4 linked regions of the Homo sapiens genome follow. The protein of the gene in region 1 purifies or fractionates together with the protein of each later gene. This does not show direct contact. Each region holds a gene or a part of one and is shown on either strand. Other genes may lie near its edges. The genes, in order: FAM241A, RTN4, SPTLC2 and RTN3.

Evidence for each region.
Region 2: the proteins of FAM241A (region 1) and RTN4 purify together in Homo sapiens (affinity purification with mass spectrometry; 4 studies listed by BioGRID and IntAct, with this or other methods). This does not show direct contact.
Region 3: the proteins of FAM241A (region 1) and SPTLC2 purify together in Homo sapiens (co-immunoprecipitation; 2 studies listed by BioGRID and IntAct, with this or other methods). This does not show direct contact.
Region 4: the proteins of FAM241A (region 1) and RTN3 purify together in Homo sapiens (co-immunoprecipitation; 2 studies listed by BioGRID and IntAct, with this or other methods). This does not show direct contact.

What each region holds. Positions count from the first base shown.
Region 1 is NC_000004.12:112,148,434-112,155,461, reverse strand, and holds part of FAM241A (uncharacterized protein FAM241A), read right to left. Parts: intron 1-7,028.
Region 2 is NC_000002.12:55,019,439-55,026,466, reverse strand, and holds part of RTN4 (reticulon-4), read left to right. Parts: coding exon 1-1,381; intron 1,382-7,028. UniProt on the Homo sapiens protein: Required to induce the formation and stabilization of endoplasmic reticulum (ER) tubules. They regulate membrane morphogenesis in the ER by promoting tubular ER production.
Region 3 is NC_000014.9:77,606,625-77,613,652, forward strand, and holds part of SPTLC2 (serine palmitoyltransferase 2), read right to left. Parts: intron 1-7,028. UniProt on the Homo sapiens protein: Component of the serine palmitoyltransferase multisubunit enzyme (SPT) that catalyzes the initial and rate-limiting step in sphingolipid biosynthesis by condensing L-serine and activated acyl-CoA (most commonly palmitoyl-CoA) to form long-chain bases.
Region 4 is NC_000011.10:63,684,484-63,691,511, forward strand, and holds part of RTN3 (reticulon-3), read left to right. Parts: intron 1-7,028. UniProt on the Homo sapiens protein: May be involved in membrane trafficking in the early secretory pathway. Inhibits BACE1 activity and amyloid precursor protein processing. May induce caspase-8 cascade and apoptosis.

The sequences.
Region 1 (7,028 bases):
ACTTACCTCCCACTAAACTACATAGACCCAATAAAAGAAAAAAGATTTTTTTGAGGGGATGGATAAAAACAATGAGAATATCAACTAGAACTTAGTCTTTGAAATGATTATAAACAGAAAAATACCAAAATTTGCATTCATTTTTCATTTTAACTACCGGGCTTCAATATTTTTAAAATTATAAGTCATAATTGCAGACACACAAATGAAACCACCAGGTAGTCAAAAAGATACACTCAATTTCAGTAATATCTAACAGACGTATTGGAACAGCTGCCTATTGTAGAGAAAGAAATGGTTATGCAATGGAAAAATAATTAAATAAGAGAAGGGCTTTTCATGAACTAATGATATATAACTGTGGGCCACGAACTCAAGAATATGCCTAACTCAAGCCTCTTTTTTTGTGGCGGGGGAGGGTGGTGGGCGCAGACGGAGTTTTGCTCTGTCGCCCAGGCTGGAGTGCAGTTTGCGATCTTGGCTCACTGCAACCTCTGCCTCCTGGGTTCAAGCGATTCTTCTACCTCAGCCTCCTGAGTAGCTGGGATTACAGGTATTCCCCACCATACCCGGCTGATTTTTGTATCTTTTTGGAGAGGCGGGGTTTCGCCATGTTGGCCAGGCTGGTCTCGAACTCCTGGCCTCAGGTGACCCGCCCACCTCAGCCTCCCAAAGTGCTGGGATTACAGGCATGACCCACCACACCCTGCTCAAGCCTCTTTCTGATTTCAAACTGCAGGTTAAGACATTTCTACATTTTATACTTTTTCAAGAATCTACTTTTTTAAAAAAAAATATGAAATCTCTGGTGACATTACTTAGTACCTTGCATATGCAGGACAATATGCTAGATGCTACTACAAGATGGGTAAACTTATCCATTAAAAGTAGCCAGGCTGGGCACGGTGGCTCATGCCTGTAATCCCAGCACTTCGGAAGGCCAAGGCAGGGAAATTGCTTGAGGCCAGAAGTTCATAACCAGCCTGGGCAACACGGCAAAACTCCATCTCTACTAAAAATACAAAAATTAGCCAGGCATGGTAGTATGCACCTGTAGTCCCAGGAACTCGGTAGCCTGAGGCACAAGAATTGCTTGAACCTGGGAAGTGGAGGTTGCAGTGAGCTGAGATCCTACCATTGCACTCCTGCTTGGGCAACAAAGGACTCTGTCTCAAAAATAAAAAAATAAGAAATAAATTTTAAAAAATAAAGTATCAAACTTAGGGGAAAAAAGTAGTCAAAATCAAATATCTCTCCTGAAAAATGACTTTCCTTCTCAATTCTCAATTTGTGGCAGTGAAAATTTCGCTTCTGCTGTTATTACCTCTAAAACTCATGGAATAAGAAATCCTCAATTCAGTCAGACTGATGGAATTTGCAATCATGCAACATCAAACTTAAATTCCCTACCTCTGTAGGCCATCTGCAGACATTCAAGTAAAATTTAATTAAGAGGATACAAAACAAAAATTAAATTATTTTGGATTAATTGGAAGAGGAAATAAAAGAAATTCTCAAACACAGATATTTAAAAAGTTACATGAAAATAAATACTGTAAAAACCACAATGGGAATTTAACTTTCTTAACATTATGTTTAGATATTAAGTATTAATGATAATTTTATCCTTTATTTTCCATAAAGTTAAAAACATTTGTACCATGCTTTCCTTTTGATTAGAACTCTGATAAGCTGCAGTTGTTGCCCTAAGAAAACAGCAAGAAATAAAGCCAATCACTTCCTCTTCCTATGCCAAGATAAGACTCAGCTGCCAATGAAGTTAAATGGCTGGGGGCGGTGCCGGGGGAAACACTGGGTATGGGGAAAAAGATCAGAAGATAGAAAGTATCTTCTGCATCAGGTTGGTTAGAAACTCGGTTTATCTGCTCAAAAGAAGCTACATTTCAAATGTCTTATTAATTCTCTCAAACACACATAAACACAATGAAATAAAACATAACTAGTAGGAACAAGGTTTTCGGAGATAGGTGGCTGTTACTGGAAGATAAGATTATGACTCCAGAAAAGACAGAAAATGAAGACAGTGTTGCTAAGTCTTAAAGAACACATGAATAGAGACACAGAATTTCTACATATTTCTGTTACAGCAAGACTGATGTCATGGTACTTTGAGTTTTTCCTTTTAATCTTGCCTTATCACTTCTTTTGAATAGGAAACTGAGAATAGTTTGTACAGAGGAGGTGGGTATTTTTCCTCTCAAGGATTAGTGAGCAACAAGGGGGAAAAGAAACCAACTAGAGATCTACATAAAAAACAACATAATTTAGGTTGACAGGTTTAATTTTTTCTTTAGAGATTGTCTATTCTAAACATTAGATACATTGTTTCACAATCTTAACACTTTGTTCAATAAATATTCTATAAATTTGAGAATTACATGTACTAAAAACACAGTTCTATGATGTGTTAGTTGAGGGAAATAAGGGGAGGAAAACCAGAGAAAAAGAAGAAAAATAGAAAAGGTGAGGGAGAAATAAGGAGCAAATATTTATTGAGTGCCTCCATGTGTTAGGCATTTTACATACAAAATGAGACTGAATCCTCATAAAAACTTTAAGAGGTGGGTAGCATCATACCCATTACAAATGAGGAAATTGAATCTCTGACGGATTAAGTAATCAGGATCACGGGGGCTAATAAAGAGTAAAACCGGGATTCAAAATTAGATCTGTCATACTTCAACCCCCTTTTCATTGTTTCATAATGCTCAGCTTCTGCACTGAAGTGGAAGAGGTAGGGGAAGATGTATGCAGAAGAAGAGAAAGTGGTTGAGATGCGTGGGGAGGGAAAAAACACATGAGAGAACGAGACTCAACAGAGACAGAAAGGAGATGGGTGGTAGGAAAGAAAGGCAGAAAAGGAATGTGTGAGAAAGCAAAATACAGCAAGTTGCATACGAGGAGCTGCTAGAAGAGACACAGAGAAAAGTTTGAAATTCTGTTTAAAATACAGGTTTCAAGCAAATAAACAATTTTAACCTATCTATTGGAATATCTATTATCAGAGTAATTACTTTTGACAACTCAAAGGACTGTAACCCTTACATATTTTGAATATTGTTTCTCAACTTTGGCACTATTGAAATTTTGTGCCAGATAATACTTCGCTGTAGGGGACTATGGCATTATACGATGTTTACCAGCATTCCTGGCCTTTTCCTATTAGATGTCAGTACCACCTCCTTAGTTTCAGCAATAAAAAAATGTCCAGACATTGTCAAATGCCCCCTATGGACAAAAGGCCCCCAGTTGAGAACCACTGATTTAGAAGTTCCAGTCTGGATGATTTAAAAAAATGAACAAAAGATGCCTATCAAATGCAAAATTATTCCCTGAGTTACTCTAGTGACTGGATGTCCTTAGGAACAAGATGAGATTAAGTTAGGGCAGAATTCAACTAAGCTCATAGCACTTATTACAATATTGCTTGCAAACTGCTTTTAAAATACGTGAAAGGAAGTGAGTATAAACTAATATTTAGTTTTGAACTACACCATCTAAAGTAGGGCAGAAAATTTGTCAGACTGTTTTTCCATCATGTAATGTGCTTTTTGTATTTGTGAAACAAACAAACAAACAAAAAACACTAGCTTTGGTGTTCGGAAACCTGGGTTCTAGTCTGCTCTAGCATGAGTTAGCTGTAGGACCTACAGCAAATAACGTGGCCTAGGGAACAACTATTGGCTTCTCATATTTTACCAAGAGTTTAAATATACACTTCTAAGAAAATAGTTAAACAACTTCATATGTATATATTACTGATACTATGTTGAAGGGCAAGTGTGGTGAATACAGTATATTGACTTGCTTATTCTCCATTCCCTTGCCAAAATGTGGTCCATGGGCACAGCATCAGCATCACTTAGGAGTTTGTAGAGATGCAAAATCTCAGACCTCACTCCAAACCAACTGAATCAAAATCTGCATTTAATAAGAGATGATTCCTATGCACACTGAAGTTGAGGAATACTTGTGTCAGTTTCCATTGCTATAAAAAAATCAGACACAGACAATATAGCACTGGATAATTTATAAAGAAGAGAGGTTTATTTGGCTCATGGTTCTGCAGGCTGTACACGAAACATAGTGCTGGCATCTCCTTCTGGTAAGGGCCTTAGGAAGCTTACAATCATGGCAGAAGGTGAAGGGAGAGCAGGCAGTGTCACATGGCAAGAGGGAGGGAGGGAAGGAGAGAGAGGGAGAGAGGTCCCAGATTCTTTTAAACAACCAGATCTTGTGTGAACTAAGTGGGCGACAATTTACTTGTCACCAAAGGCATAGCACTAAGCCGTTTATGAGGGATCTACCCCCATGATCAAAACACCTCCCACCAGATCCCACCTCCAACACTGTAGATCACATTTCAGTATGAGATTTGGAGGCAACAAACGCCCAAACTATATTAATGCTGTTCTGCTTTTCGCCTCAGGTGGTTTTCTAATTGCAGAGGCTGGAAAACTTAAAATTGCCTTTCTCAGATTTCGTTTCAGTTAGGACTTTGGTCCAAAATTAGGCCTAACAGCTAACACTCACATGCTAGATAGCTATGTGCCAGAGACTGCTCTAAGTACATCTCATATATTATTAATTCATATAATCCTTCCAATAATCCTATGAAGTTGTTACAATTATTCCCATTATGCAGATGCAGAAACTGCAGCCCAGAGAGGTTAGTTACTTGCCTAAAGTTACAGTCAATAAAAGGCAAACCCAGGTAACCCTGATCTAGAATCTGTACTGTTAATCATATTTCTACTGATAGATCAAAAGGCATGGACCCCCCTCACTGAACCCCCCATTTTGTTTTCTTTTTTACAGATCATCTCATGGAACACACTTTGGCAAATGCTGTTACAGAAGTTCCTTCATTTATTTACTTACATTTATCTATGAGCCAGCATTGTTCTGAAAGTTCTAGGCATTGCCAAAGGCAAGAAATAGAAATGAGACATTATCATTTGAAAGGAAGCAAAATTATTTTTATCTATAAACTGGATAATTATATACCTAGAAGATGCAAATGAATCAAGTCTAAGAGCTACTAGTATTTATTAGTACCAGTATAAAAATTTAGAAAGATGGCCAGTTAAAAATGAAATACATAAAAGCCAATAGCTAGAAACCACCAACAAAATATGATATGGAAAAAATCCTTTTCATAATACCAACAAAAATATAAAAACTTAATACAGACTTTAATATAATCCTTAATACTATAAAAGATTATAAAGCAAGGCAGAAAGTACATTATTCAATGATTAGGACAAAAAAAGATCAGCTCCATACTTCATACAATATAGAAAATCATTCTAAAGAGATTAAATATATAGAGTAAAAAATTAAACCATAAATGCACACATACAAAAGAAAACATAGGCAAATATTTAACTGATTGTAAGATTAGAAAAAATTTCTTAATATGTATAGAAAGAGATACGTGTATACATGTGAGTGGTGTGTGTATATACGAAATTACCAAAAAAATTCCTTTAATAAAAATTCAAAGCATTATCAAATTTTAAAAAACATAAATAAAATTATAAAGTAAATAGCAAGCAGAGAAAATATTTACAGCCAATGTGAAAATAAGGGATTAATATCCTTATAATGCCAAAAGAAAAAAAATGACTAAAAAGAAATACAAATGCCTAATAAATATATGAATGGTTTAGTAAACCTCTCCAGCAACAGCTTACAATATGATAGAAGTTTCACCTATGAAATTGGCAATGATTATAAACTATATTGTTCATTGCTGGCATGGATGGTTTCCAACTGGCCTTTTTACACACCAGTGCTGCAAGTGTAAATGAGTACAACCTTTCTTGAATTAAATTCTTTAGGATGTTTCAAGAGGCTTCAAAGAGTTTGACTCATTGACCTAGTTCTTCTACTTCTAGGAATCTATACCAGGGTAGAAGTTTAAGGATTTACAAGCAAATATTTTCAGACAGCACGATTTATAAAAGAAAGCTTGAAGCAACTTCAATGTGCGGTGTTAGGGGAATGAATTATTTGGCAGCCCTAAAGAGAGTTTTCACATAGAATTTCCATAACATGGGAAAATGACACAACCTTTTGTAAAAGAAGACACAAAATTATATTTATATTAAAACATATTAAAAATACATGTGTGGCTGGGCACAGAGGCTCAGACCTGTAATCCCAGTACTTCGGGAGGCTGAGACGGGAGGATTGCTTGAGGCTAGTAGTTTGAGATTAGCCTGGGCAACATAGCAAAACCCTATCTCAAAAAAAAAGTGTGTATATATGCATATACACATAGACAAATGAATATACTGTAGTAATACCAAGTTTCATATTTGATATCAAAATATTTGATATCAAAATCCCAAAATAGAGTGGGATTTCAAAGGCTTTTTTCTTCTTTAGATCTTTCTATAGTTCTAATTTTCCAAAGCACACATTACTTTTATAATCATAAAGACGTTAAAGCTAGAGTTAATAATTCGAAAGTCAATCTAAGGATAATGGGACTTCCCTATTCTCTAGGTAAGAGGGTCATGTTAGGTTATTTCAGATTGTGAGTGACCTGTACATTGTGCCACATCTAAGCAGATGCTATTGACATTTAAGGCATATAATAATGGACTAGAGATGTTTAGCCTTTCAGCTATGCATCAGGGCACAGAAACTCTTACATAAAGCCACCTGGCATTCACCCTCATGAACATACTTGGATCATCTCTCATACACACAATTACCAACACATATATGGAATAGCTGTGTCCTGTCCCTTCAGTTTCTTGGACATTCCCTGAAATTGCTTCTTTCCCTTGCTTATCTCTCTTTAGACACCTGATCCTATTTCAAACCTGGCACAGTTTCTTCATCTACAGGACTTGATTCATTCTCCCAAGGCCTCCTTTCTTAAGTGACTTGATTTTAACCAGGCATCCTTTGTCAATCGCCCTACCTGGAAAGACTCAGGCCAGAATGACAGAAGAACCTTCATTTTTTGCTCAAATGGAGTAGCATCTAAAGAC
Region 2 (7,028 bases), on another chromosome or scaffold:
AACATGCCTGAAGGCCTGACTCCAGATTTAGTACAGGAAGCATGTGAAAGTGAATTGAATGAAGTTACTGGTACAAAGATTGCTTATGAAACAAAAATGGACTTGGTTCAAACATCAGAAGTTATGCAAGAGTCACTCTATCCTGCAGCACAGCTTTGCCCATCATTTGAAGAGTCAGAAGCTACTCCTTCACCAGTTTTGCCTGACATTGTTATGGAAGCACCATTGAATTCTGCAGTTCCTAGTGCTGGTGCTTCCGTGATACAGCCCAGCTCATCACCATTAGAAGCTTCTTCAGTTAATTATGAAAGCATAAAACATGAGCCTGAAAACCCCCCACCATATGAAGAGGCCATGAGTGTATCACTAAAAAAAGTATCAGGAATAAAGGAAGAAATTAAAGAGCCTGAAAATATTAATGCAGCTCTTCAAGAAACAGAAGCTCCTTATATATCTATTGCATGTGATTTAATTAAAGAAACAAAGCTTTCTGCTGAACCAGCTCCGGATTTCTCTGATTATTCAGAAATGGCAAAAGTTGAACAGCCAGTGCCTGATCATTCTGAGCTAGTTGAAGATTCCTCACCTGATTCTGAACCAGTTGACTTATTTAGTGATGATTCAATACCTGACGTTCCACAAAAACAAGATGAAACTGTGATGCTTGTGAAAGAAAGTCTCACTGAGACTTCATTTGAGTCAATGATAGAATATGAAAATAAGGAAAAACTCAGTGCTTTGCCACCTGAGGGAGGAAAGCCATATTTGGAATCTTTTAAGCTCAGTTTAGATAACACAAAAGATACCCTGTTACCTGATGAAGTTTCAACATTGAGCAAAAAGGAGAAAATTCCTTTGCAGATGGAGGAGCTCAGTACTGCAGTTTATTCAAATGATGACTTATTTATTTCTAAGGAAGCACAGATAAGAGAAACTGAAACGTTTTCAGATTCATCTCCAATTGAAATTATAGATGAGTTCCCTACATTGATCAGTTCTAAAACTGATTCATTTTCTAAATTAGCCAGGGAATATACTGACCTAGAAGTATCCCACAAAAGTGAAATTGCTAATGCCCCGGATGGAGCTGGGTCATTGCCTTGCACAGAATTGCCCCATGACCTTTCTTTGAAGAACATACAACCCAAAGTTGAAGAGAAAATCAGTTTCTCAGATGACTTTTCTAAAAATGGGTCTGCTACATCAAAGGTGCTCTTATTGCCTCCAGATGTTTCTGCTTTGGCCACTCAAGCAGAGATAGAGAGCATAGTTAAACCCAAAGTTCTTGTGAAAGAAGCTGAGAAAAAACTTCCTTCCGATACAGAAAAAGAGGACAGATCACCATCTGCTATATTTTCAGCAGAGCTGAGTAAAACTTCAGGTAATCCAATCTATATGCAGTTTTGTGCTTTCATGCCACTTTTGGATTTAGGGAACATTCCACTACATTTTGTGTTTTATATTATGTTTATAGTGTCTCATATGTCACATTGGTAAGAAGTCTTCTCCACTTTTTCAGTTAAAGGTTTTAGTGCTTTTTCTAACTCTCTTGCACTCAGCATTCACCCTTAACTTTTCCACACAGTTACACTTTTATATTGCACTATGGAACTATTAATAGAAAATATTTTTGTTTATAAGAATTGGCTTTAGTACCTATTTCTTTCTTTCTTTCTTTTTTCACTTGTGTTTCTTGATAACATGAAGAGCAAGAGATATTAAAATATTTTCAGATGTGTTTTTGTTATCCCAGAAATTACCATATTTAATTTTTAAAGAAAATTTCTATAGTATGTTTTAAATATTTCTATATAATATAGTACTTTTCCAGTGGTAGGTATAAAGTTAGGCATATTGAGTGTAGACATTTTGTTGAAAAGTATAAAATGAGTTATGCTATTATGAATTCTTTTGAAAAGTACCGATTCTCCTTTTTTTCTTTTGACTATCCATTTTCCACATACCTGATTTGCATAAGGTGATTTGCACAAGGTGATTTGCACATGTGCTCTTTATTAGCATTCTGATTTAGCTGCGTTTTCTCTAAAATAGTGATTATGATAAATTTACTGAATATACTTATGTATTTAAGTGCTGGTGCTTCAGCAGTACAGTCCAGCTCATCACCATTGGAACAGTGGTAGACCAGTTGCTGTAATCTAAGAAAGAGGAGATTATGAACATTCAGGCAGTGGGATGAGCACAGAGACATAGGACTTGGTGTTTGACGGATAGGGACATAAAGGATGAGGGGAAGAGGTAAAGATGACCCCAGGAACCCTGGATTTCATTTCTGGCATGTGCACTTGTATGGGTGGCAGTATGAGAAACTGAGATAGGGAACATGAGAGATTAAAGTAGGTTTAAGAGGGAAGATACAAATTTGGTTTTGGATATGTTGGTATTGATGTACATACCTCTAAGATATCCAGTAAGTTATGGATATTATACACATGAAGCTCTTGAGAGAGATCTTGGCTGTATGTGTCTGTCATGGGCTTAGAGATAGAAATTAAAGCCCCAGATACCAATTAGGAAGAATCAAGAGAAGAGGACTACTTGAAGGTGGAAGAAATGGTCAAAATTATCAAATACTGGAGAGGTCAGTTAAGGATTGCAAGTTGGTCAAAAAGGAGGGAAGATATTGTCATGACAGCGGCAAATGGTGTGGTGTGCATGGGCATGGCTAGGATTGAGAAGTGAATGAGACTTGAGTAAGTGGTTATTAAATGTTGATTACTCTTAAGAAGTTTGAGATTTTTATTGGAGAAAAATTAAAATATTAGCAAGCAGGAAGGAGAGTATGCAGTGGAGGTAGGACTTTTTTTTTAAGGTGGGAAGGGGAAAATCTGATTACAGGTGCTGGCAGAAAGTCAGAAGGGGATGGGGATGTGCTGCCTAGTTCAGGTGGAAGAATTAGTGTTAGAGAGAAGGAACGATAGAGCTTTGATTGTAGTGAGTGGAAAGGAAAGTATGGGGTATTGATACTGTTAGGGTTTTGTGACTGAAAGTTGAGGGAATTATTTGATGGTTTATGTTTGTTCTTTAAAGCAGTATGTTAGTTCATTTGCTGGGAATGAAGTAGATCATGCTTGGGTGGAAGAGATCTGCAATACCTCTGACTAGGGAAACCAAAGGCATTGTATTAGGAGCCTAATCAAGGTTGAAAGGTGGTCTAAATGGTAGGGTGACTTTTCTTTGATTGTGCCAAACAACCTAGGTATGGGTTCAGGGAAGGCAAATGATTGTATTGATTCAAGGATGTGTTTTGGCAGGTGGGCCCTGTGGAAGGACAGTAAGTCAAGAAAGTTGAGGGTGATAGCAGGAGAGTAATTTGAAGTGATGGACTGTGGCATCTAAGTTGAAGGATGTGAATAGAAAAAGGTAGGAGAGGTAGGAGGAGAGTAGATGGTCAGTGAACTCAAGGCCCAGATTAGGTTTAAGAACCAATAGTAGTAGGAATAAATACATGCCAGAATGATAGGAGATTGTGGTCAAAGTAGGGGAGAGAAAGAATGCATGTGCGGGAGAGCAGGGTGTGTGTGTGTGTGTGTGTGTGTGTGTGTGTGTTGGATGTTGAATTTAGAATTTCAGAGGAATAGCAGTTCAGGTTGATTATAATGGCCAGTGTTAGGCCATCAGGCAAAGGCCTACTGTGTAGTCAGATTAAGATTGCTAGAGGTGAGGTCAAGTAAACTATGAGGCCATGATACTGTATTGCACTTCTACCTAACATTGAAGTCACCCAGGGTGATGGCAGGACTAGGGGTGGAGAGGAATACTGGGGTTAGAGTCCTTGGTAAAGGGCAGTGAGGTAACTGGCAGGATGGTAGGTAGAAGAAATGAGGAAGGACAGAGAATGACGTAGCGGAATAGCCAAGACTTTTGCCCAAGGTCTCTGAAATAAAAGTCTGGAAGCAGCATTGGTGAGCAGAGGGTACTGACCTCCCCACTCCTCCCTTAGGTGTGTAGAATATGAGAGAACGATTTAGCCTTCATTTAGCAAGTTCCACAGGGAAACCAGTATCTTCAAGGAACAGCCAGGTTTTAGTGAAGGCGAGGTAAAGGCAGGAATGTTCAGTAAAGATGTTGAGGAGTAGAGGAGCTGGTTCACAGTGGAATGGGGGTTTCAAACAGCACAGTAAAATGGTTTAGGAGGGAACAGTAGAAAGAAGGGTCTCAGAAGCCCAGAGCAGCTTGGTGATGACTGGGTGAAGAGCAAGGAGTAATCGGTGTAGCAACACCTTTGAAGTCTCCCCTCCCCGCTAGTGCTTCCTCCCAAAACTTAAAGCTAGCAGTCCTCTAGTAGATGGTGGCCCTTAGGAATTTCAGTATTTCAGGAGTCACCTATTTCTTGGATTGTTTTTGTTAAACCTGGGAAATCTATAGCCTAATAGTTTAGAAGTAAGGGAAGAAAAGGGGGCATTGCCTTTGAAAGCTTAATGGGAATGGTGGAAGAAAGTGTAAGCAATGCTTGGGCATTCTCTTTTAGAATATGTTTATCTCCCTTCTCTGAGAAAATTGTTATTTCCTGCCTTTTTGACTTAACCTTTTTTGATATTAGTTATCATAGCAACTTACTAGGGAATAGAGAATTATTTAGATACACCCAATATATATATTCTACAAAAGTTGTGGGAAGGAAACCCAGTATTGCTATAATGAAAACAATATAGGTGACCTGAGGTTTTAGTCTTGGCTATACCACTGACAATCACTTTGTTTCTCTAGATGTCATTTTCCTTTTCTATAAAAGGAAGGGTGGATTAGCTCAAGTCCTTGCAACTTAATAATTTTCTTGACTTGATTATATAACAGGCATCTGTTAAAAGCAGGTAAGTAGTGGCCAGTCACAATGGCTTACGCCTGTAATCCCAGCTTTCAGGGAGGGAGAGGTGGGAGGATAGCTTGAGCCCAGGAGTTCGAGACCTGCCTGGGCAATATAGTGAGACTCCGTTCTCCACAAAAAAGGGAGAAAAAAAAGACAAAAAAAAAAAAAAGTGTAAAAGCAGGTAAGAGTTGCTTTAACATGCTTCTATCAGGCACTATATGAGATTTTTTTTTGGCGGGGGGGGCAGGGAAAAAGATGAAACTAAGACAAAGTTTTGCGCTTTATGCAACTTACAGCCAGCTGGTACAGACACACTGTTGAGGACATAGTTAAACATTGTGATCTATGTTATAGTGAGGATAGGTACTTACCTGTGTATCTTCGTGAAAGGGAGGTTCAAGTGTACTGAAGTCAAATGTACCAAAATACAGCAGTGGTCTGATAAAACATAAGGGAAGCTCTCTTCTCAGATGACTTAAAAGTTTTATGCCATCTCTAATTATGAAATATTTAAGTGTGTTTTTAAAAAAATTCTGGGTCTTATTAATGTATATGCATTTAAACATTTAAACTATTAAATAATAAAATACTAATTTCCTCAGATCATTTATTATCTCATATGTTCTTCTTTTCTTTTTTCGAGACAGGTTCTTGCTGTGTCGCCCAGGCTGAAGTGCAGTGGTGAGATTATGGCTCACTGCAGCCTCAACCTCCCAGGGTCAGGTGGTCCTCAGCCTCCCAAGTAGCTGGGACCAAAGGCTCGTGTCACTATGCCTGGCTAATTATTTTTGTAGAGAGGAGGTCTTGCCTTGTTGCCTAGGCTGGTCTCAAACTCCTGTGTTCAAGGATCCTCCCGCCTCTGCCTCCCAAAGTGCTGGGATTACAGGTGTGAGCCTCCAGGACTTTCCTGTTCTTGTTTTCTTAAAATGACATTTTGTAGGCAGAAATCAGTTTTAGTTTTGGGAAGAAAGATTGATTTTGCAAGAGAGATGAATAAGGTATTGTGATGCAGATGGTGCTTTATTAATTTTGGGAAGTAAAGTTTGTCAAGAAACTAATGAATTCTGGTCTTCCTCCCCCTCCATTTACAAAGAAATTTGTGACAAACTATATTCTTACTATTGGAATGTAAATACTGATTTTTTTTCTCAGTAGTAGTATCAATGAATGTTCTTGGCATTTCCCCAATGAATGTTCTTGGCATTTTTTTTTTTCCAAAAATTGATTGGCTATAGATATGTTAATTAATTTCTGGGTTATCTGTTCTGTTCCATTGGTCTGTGTTTCTGTTTTTATGCCAGTACCATGCTGTTTTGGTTACTATAGCTGTGTAGTATATTTTGAAATTTAGTAGTGTGATTCCGCCAGCTTTATTTTTGTTCAGGATTGCTTTTGCTTTTTGGAGTCTTGTGGTTCCATACAGATTTTAGGATTTTTTTTCCTATTCCTGTGAAGAAGGTCATTGGTATTTTATTAGGGATTGCATTGAATCTGTAGACTGCTTTGGATATTACGGCCATTTTTTAACAATGTTAACTCTTATGATTCATGAACATGGAATGTCTTTCTTTGCATTTGTTTGTATCCTCTTCAATTTCTTTCATCATTGTTTTGTAGATTTCCTCGTAGAAGTCTTTCACCTCCTTGGTTAAACTTATTCTGAGGTATTTTTTTTTAAGCTATTGCAAATGGAGTTTCCTACTTGATTTCTTTTTCAGCTAGTTTGTTGTTTGTGTAAAGACATGCGATATTTTTGTTATTGATTTTATATCCTGCAACTTTACAGAATTTACAAGTTTTTGGTAGTCTTTAGGTTTTTCTTTATATAAGATCATGTCATCTGCAAACAGGGACAATGTGACTTCCTCTTTTCTAATTTGGATATCCTTTATTTCTCTCTTGCTCAATTGCTCTGGGTAGGACTTCCCATTTCAGTCTTTATTTATTTGTTATGACATTAGCAGTTTTAAAGAACACAGGGCCTCTCTTCCCCCGACTTTATAATAGAACATTCCTCCTAGTGGATTTGTCCGATGTTTCCTAGTGATTAATTTGAGGCTATGGGTTCATTTATGATACTGTATAGATGATGATGTGTCCCTCTCATAGCACCACTTCTAGAGTTATCTGCTATTCATCAGTCCCTCACTGGTTATGTTAATTTTGACCGTCTGGGCAAGATGAGCTCTGATTTCCT
Region 3 (7,028 bases), on another chromosome or scaffold:
TCAACATAATCATTTCATTTTTTTTTCCACTCATTCTACAAATACTTAATTTCTATCTATATGTCAAGAACTGTACTCTAGGCTGGGCACAGGAGCTCACGCCTGTAATCCCAACACTTTGGGAGGCCAAGGCGGGAGGATTGCTTGGACCCAGGAGTTTAAAACCAGCCTGGACAACATAGTGAAACCCTATCTCTACACAACATTTTCAAAAGTTAGCCGGATGTGGTGGTGCATGAATGTAGTCCCAGCTACTGGGGAGGCTGAGATAGGAGGATCTCCTGAGCCCAGAAGGTTGAAGCTGCAGTGAGCCATGATGGCGCCACTGCACTCCAGCCTGGGTGATAGAACAAGACCCATCTCAAAAAAAAAAAAAATTGTACTCTATATTTCATGAAACAAATAAGAGGTAAGAGGTAATCCTTGTCTTCAAGAATTGTGCAGTATTTTGTTTGTTTGTTTTTTTAAGAGAAAATGGATGTAAATATAAAAGGAAGTAAGGAAATCATTTTAAAGAATATCACCTAAAGGAATTTATATTTAATATGTAAGACGAAAAACACATACAAAGTAATAAGCATTTCTCTTACAAATGTTTCTCAAGCTGTCTCTTCCTCCTCATTTGACTGACAAAATCAAGGAAAGTAGATTAAGCAATTTGTCAACAGTCATGGGAAAGCTAAATATCAAAGTTGGAACTAGAGTCCAATTATTTATAGGTTGGTGCAAAAGTAATTGCCATTAAATGGTTTCCGCCATTAAAAGTAATGGCAAAAGTAATTACTTTCAATGTCAAAAACCGCAATTACTTTTCCACCAATCAATACATTTTCCATTTGCCATTCCTTAGTTTATATTGCCTGAGATTTTCTTTTTTTATTTTATTAATTCCATGGCTTTCCAATGAATTGAGATTTTCTAAGAATCAAATTTTCCTTTAATTATTTCAGAGGTACTACAACTTAATCTGATTGTTTTAAAATAATCAGTGGCTTAATATTAGAATTTTACTGCAAATTCATCTTCCATACTTATTTTTGCTATTTAAATAATTAGCTATTTTTGTTATTCATGTTATTAGCTACACTTACATGGAGACAAATGGTTATATGGGTTTCCTCTACTAAGAAAATGGGTTTCTAGGAAATGAGGTTTCGCACCAACTAATTTAGTTGTCCTGGAAATAACCTGCTTGCCTATGTAAAAGTCAAGCTTATACAGGAGGCAATAAAGACACTACCCTTTAGCACAACCTGCAGAGCTCTCCAGCACATGGTGGACTGCAGTACAACCAGGATCACAAGCCCGGTTTCTCAGCCCAGCTTCTTGGCATTTGAAATCAATGTGAGAAAAGAGCAGAGGAAAGAGCTGACACGTTTCCCCTTCCTTGTAGCACCAACCGGCGTCTCACAGCTGAAGCCCTTGGTAAGACAATGGAGAGGGTGCCGCAAAAGTCACCACTGGCCCCACTGCCCTGTAGGGAGAGCTTAGGGAGAGGTGATGAAGCATATCAGAGTGTGCCAGACCCCAGGACCTTCTCTGGCCTCTTCCTACTTCTCACAAGCTCTCCCCTCACGCTAGTAAGAACATTCAGTAAACCGCTATTGTTTTAAACCACTTGCAAACCTGATACACTATAAATTAGGCTACGGGTTTCTTTAACAGCTTATGTGTCACCACAATCCATTTCTTACTTATGTCTGTAACATTATTTTAGGGAGCTAGTTTTTGTCAACCAGCAGAGTATGTATGAAATATGACACAGTAATTATCATCAAAAAAATAGAAATAAAACTGTATTCAACATCTAGCTTTATCAAAACTTAAGATTTAGCTTATATGCTTTAGATCTTTTTTCCATTAAATAAAACATTAAAGTTATTCATTCAATACTTATTGAGTCCCTGCTATGAGCTAGGCATGATCTGAGCACTAGAAATACACTCCTGTGAGAGAGGCAGACAACAGATAAGCAAATAGATATACTGTATCAGATCACACTGCTACAATCAGAATAAAATCGTGGAAAAAGAGCATTTTAAACAGGGTGGAGGTAAGGTGTAAGCAGATGGACTTGGAGTAGGGAAGAGAACTCTGTGAAAAAGCTTTCCAGGCTGAGGTAACTGTAAAGGCTAAAGCCCCAGGGACCCCAGGCGTGGTAGGTCACGCCTGTAATTCCAGCACTTTGGGAGGCTGAGACAGGAGAATCATTTGAACTTGGAGGCGGAGGTTGCAGTGAGCCGAGATCACATCACTGCACTCCAGCCTGGGTGACAGATTGAGGCTCCATCTCAAAATAATAATAATAATAATAATAATAATAATAATAATAATAATAAGGCCCCAGGGAGGGGTGCTTGATGGCAATGTGTTTGGGGAACATCAGAAAGCCCGGATTGGCTAGAAAGCAGTGACCTGGCAGGATATGAAGTCAGAGAGGGATGGGAAAGTTCATGGTGGGCCTTGTAAACCCCATTTTGTATTCTGTTATTAGTGACAGGAGGCCATCAGGACAGTGTCAAGATCTGACATGTTTAAGTAGTTCTCCAATCCTTTTAAGAAGTCTGTCCTGGGGAAATGCTATATTTCCTTTCCTCCTCAGAAGAATTGGGAATTTGGTGTTTATCATTCCCCTGTATTTTTAAATACTTTCACTATATAAACACATGGCCATAAACAATGTAGTATTCTCCTGCATGTATTAGTACTGCATTCCTTCAGTAGTATTGCTGAATAATATCCTTTTATATGGATATACCATATTTTATCTACTCATCAGTTGATAGACATTTGGATTGTTTCTACTTTTTGGCTATTATAAATAACGTGGGGCTAGACACAGTGGTTCACGCCTGTAATTCCAGCACTTTGGAAGTCCGAAGCGGATGGATCACTTAGGTCAGGAGTCTGAGACCAGCCTGACCAACATGGTGAAACCCCATCTCTACTAAAAATATAAAAAATTAGCTGGGCGTGGTGGCATGTGCCTGTAGTCCCAGCTACTCGGAAGGCGGAGGCAGGAGAACTGCTTGAACCAGTGGGGTGGAGGTTGCAGTGAGCCACACTGCACCCCAGCCTGGGCAACGGAGTGAGACTCTGTCTCAAAAAAAAAAAAATTTTGCCACTCATGGTGGCATATGCCTGCAGTCCCAGATACTTGGGAGGCTGAGGTGGGAGGATTGATTGAGCCCAGGAGGTGGAGGCTGCGGTGAGCCATGTCCTGCCAGCCTGGGTAACAGTAACACCCTGAATCAATCAATCAATCAATCAACAATGCTGCTATTATAATTAATATACAAGTTTCTGCAGGAACATATGTTTCATTTTTCTTGGGAGTAGAATTACTGGGCCACATGCTAACTCTATGTTTAACTGTTTCCTAAAGTGGCTGCATCATTTTATAATCCCACCAGCAATGTATCAGGATTCTAATTTCTCTATATCCTCATGAACACTTAATACCTGGTTTATTATTTTAGCAATCCTAGTGGTGTGAAATGGTATCTAACTGAGGTTTTGTTTTGTTTTGTTTTGTTGAGACAGAGTCTCACTGTCGCCCAAGCTGAAGTGCAGTGGCACCATCTTGGCTCACTGCAACTTCCACCTCCTGGGTTCAAGCGATTCTACTACCTCAGACTCCCAGAGTAGCTGGGATTATAGGCACACACCACCACACCCGGCTAATTTTTACATTTTTAGTAGAGACGGGGTTTCACCATGTTGGCCAGGCTGGTCTCAAACTCCTGACCTCAAGTGATCCGCCCATCTCGGCTTCCCAAAGTGCTGGGATTACAGGCGTGAGCCACGGTACCTGGTCATATACCTTATTATTTTTTAATTAAATAGAGATGGGGTCTCGCCACGTTGCCCAGGCTGATCTTGAACTCCTGGGCTCAAGCAATCCTTACACCTTGGCTTCCCTTAGTGCTGGGATTACAGGTATGAGCCACTGTGCCCAGCCCTTAATACCTATTTTTTGGAGTAAGACTGGATCACACCCATAGTATCAGTACAACCGCATATTTCACTGTACTTAGAAATTATCACAAAATAGTCTGCTACAGTGGCTGTAATCCCAGCACTTTGGTAGGCTGAAGCAGGAGGATGCTTGTGGTCAGGAGTCTGAGACCAGCCTGGGTGGCTGGGTGCGGTGGCTCACACCTATAATCTCAGCACTTCAGGAGGCCAAGGCAGGAGGATCGATTGTACCCAACAGTTTGAGATCAGCCTGGGCAACATAGTGAGACTCTGTCTCCCTCTCTCTCTGTCTCCCTCTCTCTTTATATATATATATTTTTATTTATTTTTGTTTGTTTGTTTAAGTAAAAAAGAGACTAGCCTGGGGAACATAGTAAGACCCATCTCTACAAAAAAAAAAAAAAAAAAAGGCCAGGCATGGTGGCTCAAGCCTGTAATTCCAGCACTTTGGGAGACTGAGGCAGGCGGATTACAAGGTCAGGAGAGCGAGACCATCCTGGCTAACATGGGGAAACCCTGTCTCTACTAAAAATACAAAAAAAAAAAAAAAATTAGCCGGGTGTGTTGGTGAGCACCTGTAGTCCCAGCTACTCGGGAGGCTGAGGCAGGAGAATGGTGTGAACCTGGGAAGTAGAGCTTGCAGTGAGCCAAGATCGCGCCACTGCACTCCAGCCTGGGTGACAGAGCAAGACTCTGTCTCAAAAAAAAAAATTAGCCCACTGTAGTGGTGCACACCTGTGGACCCAGCTACTTGGGAGGCTGAGATGGGAGGATCGCTTGAGCCCGAGAAGTTGAGGCCGCAGTAAGCTATGACTGTGCTACTGCAGGCCAGGCTGGAGCGAGACCCTATCTCGCCAAAAAAAAAAAAAAAAAGAAAGAAAAGAAATTAACGGAAAGTAGCAGATGGATTTACAATAGACCACATTAAAAAACAAACCTCCGGCTAGGCGTGGTGGCTCACGCCTGTAATCCCAGCACTTTGGGAGGCGGAGGCAGGTGGATCACCTGAGGTCAGGAGTTCGAGACCAGCCTGGCCAACACTGTGAAACCTTGTCTCTACTACAAATGCAAAAATCAGCCAGGCGTGGTGGCGCATGCCTGTAATCCCAGCTACTCAGGAGGCTGAGGCTGGAGAATCGCTTGAACCCGGGAGGTGGAGGCTGCAGTGAACTGAGATGGCGCCACTGCACTCCAGCCTGGGCGACAGAGTGAGACTCCGTCTCAAAAAAAAAAAAACCTAACGCAGAGATTATCTCAATGTTTTATGATCCCACATTAAACATGTATTATTTCTATAATGAGAAGTAAAAATTATTTTTTTAAAAAAGGAAGAATAGCTGCCTCAAGCTTTGCAATAAAAAGTAGTCTTAAAGACAAACTTAAGATAAATTTTCTAACAGTAAATGGGTCAAGAGCAAAGGACTTACTTTTTTATCGGTCACAAATTGTGAATTATATTACAGAAGCTTCTCAGAAACTACCCAGAAGGGAACTGACTTTGAGTCCACAAACCATTTATTTAATCAAGTATGGCACACCCACTCAGAATGCAAACAGTGCCTCTACCCATCCCTCTGAATTGCCTATTCTACCAATAAACACTGCTTCTTTCTTCCAAAAACTGAATCTAATTAAATCAACCAATTAACTGTCTTGCTCAAAGCGGTGCAAATTTCTATGGCACATGGGCAAACCCTAAAAAGTGGGCAAGTCTGACTTTTCTGAACATCCTAGTTCTAAAATACTATCTTAAGAACATAGCTGCTTACACATTTCCCAAGAATTCCTGTTAAAGAAAATTCCTGAGTATCTCAAATAACTCTGGAATTCTTCAGATGCAGCTATGTAAGAATCAAGATATGCTTCCCCTTAGAGTGAAAACTGAAATGAAAATCTTGTCCTCCAAGTTGTAAATTACATTATTTCTGAAAAGCCTTCAGGTATCTGAGGTATCTTATCAGGATCTGCTAAATCTAAATAGATATATGACTATTCTAACTATTTCTACTGTTCTAGCCTCATAACTATCGTCTCCTTTTCCTTAACTATCACATATAAACCCCCAGTTACTGTTTCTCCCTCAGTGGAAACAAAAGCTAGTAGCTATTTAGTAAACCAGCTTTATTAGTTATTTATTTGCCTCCTCCTAAGAAGCAAGACTAACACTTTGTTCTTTCTACTTTGCTTATTATTTAACATAAGAACACAACTTTTGCCCCAATTCCTTGAGATAGAATTTTTTATTCTGTAAGCCAGAGAGCTCTCATCCTTCTAATATCTCATTAAAACTACACCCAAAGGGAAAAAAGTTAGGGTCAAAACTGTCTCAAAGGTAGATAACTTTTTTTCTTTCACACTTATTAACTAACTCAGGAAAGTAAAAGGAAAACCTAAATCTCAAAACTTCTATAAAGAAATGGAAGCTCTTTTAAAAAGAGCTGTTAACGTGAAGTTTTAAAAACAAACACACAAACAAACTACTATATTTCAGGTGCAACCAAAACATGGCATTTATTTCATCAAATGTTAAATCCACAGGAAGAAATTTGGTAATTAAGATCATGGAATAATAATCCAATTTGCTATAGAGAAAAACTTGCTGCAAATCCCCTGGAGATCTTTAAAAACAGTACAGAATTTTCTATCAAGACTGATTTTAATAAACTCCTACAAAGAGATAAAGGACTGAATTAAATAAACTCCCAAAGGTTCTTTCCAATGCTAATGTAAAAGTTTCCCTCGGGCAAATTGCCACACCTTACCTCAAATAAAGGTTTGTGCTCCTCCCACTCATCTGAATAGCAGAGAGGAAAAATTACTGCTCTATTGTTCAACTGTTACTATTGTGAAAACTGTGTGTCTACTGTCATCACTAAACAGCAATGTGTGATTGTTTCATAACTCCTTAACACAGCATCTAGCTCATCAAATTCTAAACCCAAATCCAAGAGTTGTTCTTTTACTATACACATTCATTCATCTCTTCAAGCACAGAAACATACTCTTGAGAGTGTAAAGTGATCCTAGACGTTTCTGACTTCTCTCCTGTT
Region 4 (7,028 bases), on another chromosome or scaffold:
GGTTTTGCCATGTTGGCCAGGCTGGTCTCAAACTCCTGGCCTCATGTGATCTGCCCTCCTCGGCCTCCCAAAGTGCTGGGATTACAGATGGGAGCCACTGTGACCAGCTTTACCCATTATTTCTTAGTAAAATTTTATTACAGAATTTGTATTTCTTAGATGTGCTGTAGACACGTATCACTATTAGCACTTAAAACAGTGATATATAGTAGTACTTGGTAAGTATTTGTTGAATAAATTATCAAATTTACGAGCTAGAAAGGCACACTTGAGAAATAAACTAAAGAGAAACTCTTTTTGGAGTCTCGCTCTGTAGCCCAGGCTGGAGTGCAGTGGTGTGATCTTGGCTCACTGCAACCTCTGTCTCCTGGGCTCAAACCATTCTCCCACCTTAGCCTCCTGAGTAGGTGGGATTACAGACATGCACCACCACGCCCAGATAATTTTTGTACTTTTACTAGATATGGGGTTTTGCCATGTTGGCCAGGCTGGTCTTGAACTCCTGACCTCAAGTGATCCGCCCACCTCGGCCTCCCAAGGTGTTGGGATTACAGGCATGAGCCACTGAGCCCAGCCAAGAGACTCTTATCTTAAATGCTTATCCATTGCAAATGTGCATTCATATTGTCTAAAAAGCACTAATACAGTTTTGGTGGGCCCAATGCAAGATCCTCATTTGTTGGGTCACTACTTGAACATAAAAGTTTACCTTAAGATACTGCAGTGTGGGGCCAGGCACGCTTGCTCACTCCTGTAATCCCAACACTTTGGGAGGCTGAGGTGGTTGGATCACCTGAGGTCAGGAGTTAGAGACCAGCCTGAACAACATGGTGGAACCCTGTCTCTACTAAAAAATACAAAAATTAGCCGGGCACAGTGACGGGCACCTGTAGTCTCAGCTACTCGGGAGGCTGAGACAGGAAAATCACTTGAACCCAGGAGGCGGGAGTTGCAGTGAGCTGAGATCACACCATGGCACTCCAGCCTAGGCGACACAGCAAGACTCCATCTCAAAAAAAAAAAAAAGTTACTGCAATGTGTTGTAATCATTTTTATTGCAGAAGCCTTTCCTCCTTGCTGGATGTTTTTCTTCATGTCACAAAGGAAGTGTCTCAGGCTTTTGCACCATGAAAATAAGATGAAGTTTGTTATTCCAAAATTTAACTTATTTAAAATGTAGATGCTAAAAAATTACCTTAATTGTTTAAAAAAAAAATCTGTACGTATTGCTGTCATCCTCCAGCTTCATGTTCTTTCACCAAGCTCCTCTTGGTTTTGGAGACTTGTCTTGATTTTAGTTAAAGAAAAATAAGTGATTGGTTGGTGTCCTACAGAAAACAATTTTGTCTTGACTGACCTGTCCAGTAATTAATTTTAGAAGTATTAGTTACTATATACAGGTCAAGAATGAGTGATGGCACTCTGTACTTTAGTGCCTTAGGTTCTAATGCAGCCAGCAATGTAGTATGCTTAGAGATGGGGATCAGGGGTCAGGATGGCTTCCCAGATTTCTGCCTTTGAAGGAAACTGAAGATATCAGAGGCAAAAATTTGAGGTTGAGGTAAAAGAGACTGAAATATTCAGTGTTCATTTCAGAGCAAGAGTTGCCTTTATTAGGCCTCAAGTATAGAGACACGTCTATCATCTGAACTTTAAAAGTACTTTAATAGTTTACTGATGACACGATGTTGAAATTCTGTAACTTGGCCGGGCACGGTGGCTCACGCCTGTAATCCTAGCACTTTGGGAGGCCGAGGCAGGCGGATCACGAGGTCAGGAGATCGAGATCATCCTGGCTAACATGGTGAAACCCTGTCTCTACTAAAAATACAAAAAATTAGCCGGGCGTGGTGGCGGGGCGCCTGTAGTCCCAGCTACTCGGGAGGCTGAGGCAGGAGAATGGCGTGAACCCAGGAGGCGGAGCTTGCAGTGAGCCTAGATTGCACCACTGCACTCCGGCCTGGGGGACAGAGCGAGACTCCGTCTCAAAAAAAAAAAAAAAAAAAAGAACAAATTCTATACTTGCTAGAGACTGCTTTTTATTGTTGTTATGAAAGTTGGCTGAGTCTGGTGGCTCACACCTGTAATCCCAGCACTTTGGGAGGCTGAGGTGGGTGGCTTGCTTGAGCTCACGAGTTTGAGACCAGCCTGGACAATAGTGGTGAAACCCCATCTCTACAAAAAGACAAAAAAGCAAGAATTAGCTGAGCATGGTGATGTGCGCCTGTGGTCCCAGCCACTTAGGAGACTGAGGTAGGAGGATGGCTTGAGCTGGGGGCAGAGGTTGCAGTGAGCTGAGATTGTGCCATTGCACTCCAGCCTGGGTGACTGAGCCAGAACTTGTCTTAAAAAAAAGAAAAGAAAAGGAAAAAAGAAAATCATGATGCCAAAATAAAACTACATTTTATATGTTTGTTCATGGAAATTAGCTCAAAGCAAAAACAGCTTGGGCAATTTTTTGAAAAAGGTTTTGCTTTAAATATTTCTTTCCTCACTCATGAAACTTAGTTGTTCTGTGTACTTTTTATGGCTTCATTTTCACACTTTGTTCTACCATATTAATCAAATGTGAATATGTAATTTGTGTTTTGAGTTAACCCTTAAATAAAAAGGAATGTGGCCCCCGTCCAACACTGACATCATCTGAGTGTTACATTCGTGTCAGATTATCAGTGGCAGTGTAATGTGTTAAAACACAGACTTGAGCTCCAGGAATGCCTAGATTTCAATCCTGGCCCTGTCTCTTAATAATTATGTGATCTTGTGCAAGTCCTGAGCCTCAGTTTCCTTAACTTGAAAATTGGGATAATAGTATCTATCTTGGAGTTGGTATGAAAATTAAACACAATTTGGCTGGGCACGGTGGCCCACGCCTGTAATCACAGCACTTTGGGAGGCCAAGGCGGGTGGATCATCTGAGGTCAAGAGTTCGAGACCAGCCTGGCCAACATGGTGAAACCCTGCCTCTATTAAAGATACAAAAAATTAGCTGGGTGTAATCCTGTAATCCCAGCTACTCAGGAGGCTGAGGCAGGAGAATCACTTGAACCCAGGAGGTGGAGGTTGCAGTGAGCCAAGATAGCGCCATTGCACTCCAGCCTGAGCAACAGGGTGAGACTCCATCTAAAAAAAAAAAAAAAGTGAACACATTTATAGGGCTTAACACAGTGTCTTGCCTGTAGTAAATAACTGTACCATTAATGTGAAGAAATGAAATATAGATCAACAATGTGACCTAGACACATTTGCTTTGTACCCTTAAATCCTGACCTTTATTAAATAACAATACCTAATGTTTGACATCCATTTGTAGGTTACAAACTACTTGCACATATTAATAGATACCACATAGCAGTTCAAGTACAAATGAGAAATCTGTCTTCCTCACAATCAAAGACTATTGTTATGCCTTTTTTCCCTTTCCACATGTGAGTCAGTTGTTTCAGTTTGTGGCCCTTCACATTAATGTCATAAAGCTGCCACCCGCTTCCACTGAGGTGGTCTGTTAAAGAGGTAGAGGGAGGAGTCAAGATGTTTCCCAGAAGGCTTGGCATGAATCAATATGCTTAAATACTTATGCAGATTCTGACTAATAAATGTTGTTATGATACATTAGGAAACCCCTTTCAGCACAGAGGCAAGCATACAGGAGACAGCAAGAATGGTCATGTCAATATGGCCTGCAAATGCCTGCTGACTTGGATTGTTTTTATTCTCCAAGAATAAGAAGTGTGTTTTGCTTTTTTTTTTTTTTTTTTGAGACGGAGTCTCGCTCTGTCGCCCAGGCGGGAGTGCAGTGGTGCGATCTCAGCTCACTGCAACCTCCATCTCCCAGGTTCATGCCATTCTCCTGCCTCAGCTTCCCAGTAGCTGGGACTACAGGTGCCCACCACCACGCCTGGCTAATTTTTTGTGTTTTTAGTAGAGACAGGGTTTCACCATGTTAGCCAGGATGGTCTTGATCTCCTGACCTCATGATCCGCCAGCCTTGGCTTCCCAAAGTGCTGGGATTACAGGCGTGAGCCACCACGCCCGGCCAAGAAGTTTTTTTTTAATGCTGTTTTTGTTTATTGTCAAATTCACAAGTAATGGAACCACTCTGATCAAATTAAACAACCAATCTACATACATTTAGTAGGTGCACCCTTACCCTAAATTGTCATTTCTAAGGGGTTGTTCATTAAGTGGCTGGTAAGAACCTCAGTGTTTTTATTCTTGGTGTTTTAAAGATGGGCTGAAAATAAAAACCAATATTACTGCTTTTATCAAATTATCCTGTGAGGAAATAATATATTTATCCTGATATAGGAGTTACCTGTCTAGTCCTGTGCATGTTTCAAGCCTTGTAAAATGAAGTTTGGTCATGAAGGAATTGGTGACGTCTGGTTGAAGGGAAAAGGGAAAGTTGAGCTTTCCAATTTTGTTTGAGTCAAGAGTATATTTTGCAGAAAGACACTTCTCTTTACCCATAATCCTAGAATTTACCATTTTTGTAATTCTGAACAGAATTACAAAGGCTTCATTAAGTAAGTAGGTTTTCTAATATAAATGTGCATATTTGTTGTGTGCACTTAGCTTATAGTTTGTGTTAACTTTATTGTTGATGATGAATTTAGCCTCCTAAAGTATACAAACTTGTGAAAAATTCATCAATTTTGTAGTATAACTTTTTCTCTTAATTTAGCTAATACTCTTTGTATTGTTCTAATTTTGGTATATGTGCTGCTGAAGTAAGCACTCATAGTAAAACTTTTTAGACAAAAATTAGCAGGTCGATATTTTGTTCTTATAATTGACTTATTCAGAAGTTGCCCAGAAAACTGACTTAACCTTCTATTCTGTTCATTTATGACAGCTACTAGTTGTAGAGTTATTTTGGATCATAGGGTATGGTGTTGATGTTTTGAAAGAAGTGTGTGTGTTAAATAAGTTTAGCTGTAATCAGTATTGCTTGTGATTGCATCATTGAAGTCTTCTGGGCATCTGTGAGTTTTGTAAGACATGTTACTCTGTGATATTGCAACCTCAGAGAGAATCTCTTTAAATACTGTAACGGGGTTTGCATTTCCATTTTACGTATGGGAGAAGATTATCAGCAAGTGGCCTGCTCTTGTGATTTTTTTTTTTTATTTCAAATAACTATTCTTACCTGTTTTCTCCAATCAACTGATTTATTATCTCCTATAACCATATCATTGTAACCTAACCAGAGAAGACAGTGAGCTTATCAGCAAGTGGCCCACTCTTGTGATTTTTGATTTTTTTTTTTTTATTTCAAAGAACTATTTTTTTGAGACAGAATCCCCCTCTGTTGCTCAGGCTGGAGTGCAGTGGTGGGATCTCTGCTCACTGCAACCTCCGCCCCCCGGGTTCAAGCGATTCTCCTGCCTCAGCCCCCTGAGTAGGTGGGATTGCAGGCTTGTGCCACCATGCCCAGCTAATTTTTGTATTTTTAGTAGAGATGGGGTTTCACCATGTTGGTCAGGCTGGTCCCGAACTCCTGACCTCAAGTGAACTGCCCCCGCCTCGGCCTCCCACAGTGCTGGGATTACAGATGTGAGCCACCACACCCAGTCTCAAAGAACTATTCTTACCTGTTTTCTCCAATCAACTGATTTATTATCTCCTGTAACCATATCATCATAACTTAACCAGAGGGAACGGTGAGCTTTTTGACCTGTTCCTCATTGGTAGCTCGCCCTTCAAGATATATGGAAGGACATTCTGGAAAACCTTTTGTTATGAAAATTGTGTCCTGTTATTTGAACATATTTCAGTGGAGGGCATTGTCTTTATTTTACGTATGAGATAGAAGTACTTGATTTTCACGATATCTTACATTTGTGTACTGCTTTATGATTTAAGTTGTGCCCATATGTTACCTTAATTCAACAACTGAGCATACATGAAGGCTCTTTGCCAGGTGCTGTGGAAGACAGAAAGGTAAATAAAATATAGATCATTCCTCTAGAGGCCATATTCTATAGAGGAAAGACTTGTATTATGTTTATCTGTGAGGTAGACAGGTAGCGATATAACCCCCTTCTTACAGATGGGGACTCAGGCACAGAGAGTTTAATGCCCACGCTTTAAGATTTGAAGCAACATGTAGTAAAAGTGGCTCAGTTACCCTTTTGAATTCAGTGATCAGTTTAATTTAAAAGTCTTAATTTCTGGCTCCACGGTTCTTAAGCCAGGTGCCTTTTTATTTCACTGCTCTACAGAAACTTTCTAGTCAAGTTCACCAGATATTTTCCACATTGTTAAATTCAGTGGTCACTTCATCCTCCTCTTAACATGCTTTCACAACAGCTTTTGACATAATTGATTATTCTCTCCTTGAAATGCTTTTTTAATTTGTCTTCTGTGACACCACATACTCACTCTCACTGGCTTTTCATCCTCTGTCTCCATAAAATTCACCATTTTAAGGTGGGTTTTAGTGTATGCACAAGGTTGTACAGCTATCTCCACTATCTAATTCCAGAACATTTTTATTACCCCAAAGAGAAACCCCATATCTGTTAGCAGTAATTCACCGTTCTTCCCTCCCCTCAATTCTCTGACAACTATTAATCTGCTTTCTGACTCTGTGGATTTCCTTATTCTTGAGATTTAATATTGCTAATTCTTTTTTTTTTTTTTTTTTTTTTTTGAGATGGAGTCTCACTCTGTCACCCAGGGTGGAGTGCAGTGGCACGATCTCTGCTCACTGCACCATCCGCCTCCTGGATTCAAGCGATTCTCCTGCTTCAGCCTCCCAAGTAGCTGGGATTATAGGCATGTGCCACCATGCCCAGCTAATTTTTGTATTTTTAGTAGAGGCAGGGTTTCACCATGTTGGTCAGGCTGGTCTTGAACTCCTGACCTCAGGAGATCCACCCTCCTTGGCCTCCTAAAATGCTGGGATTACAGGTGTGAGCTACTGCGTCCGACCTAATTATTTTTATTTTGATAGAGACGAGGTCTCACTATGTTGCCTAGGCTGGTATTGAACTCCTGGGCTCAAGCGATCCTCCTGCCTTAGC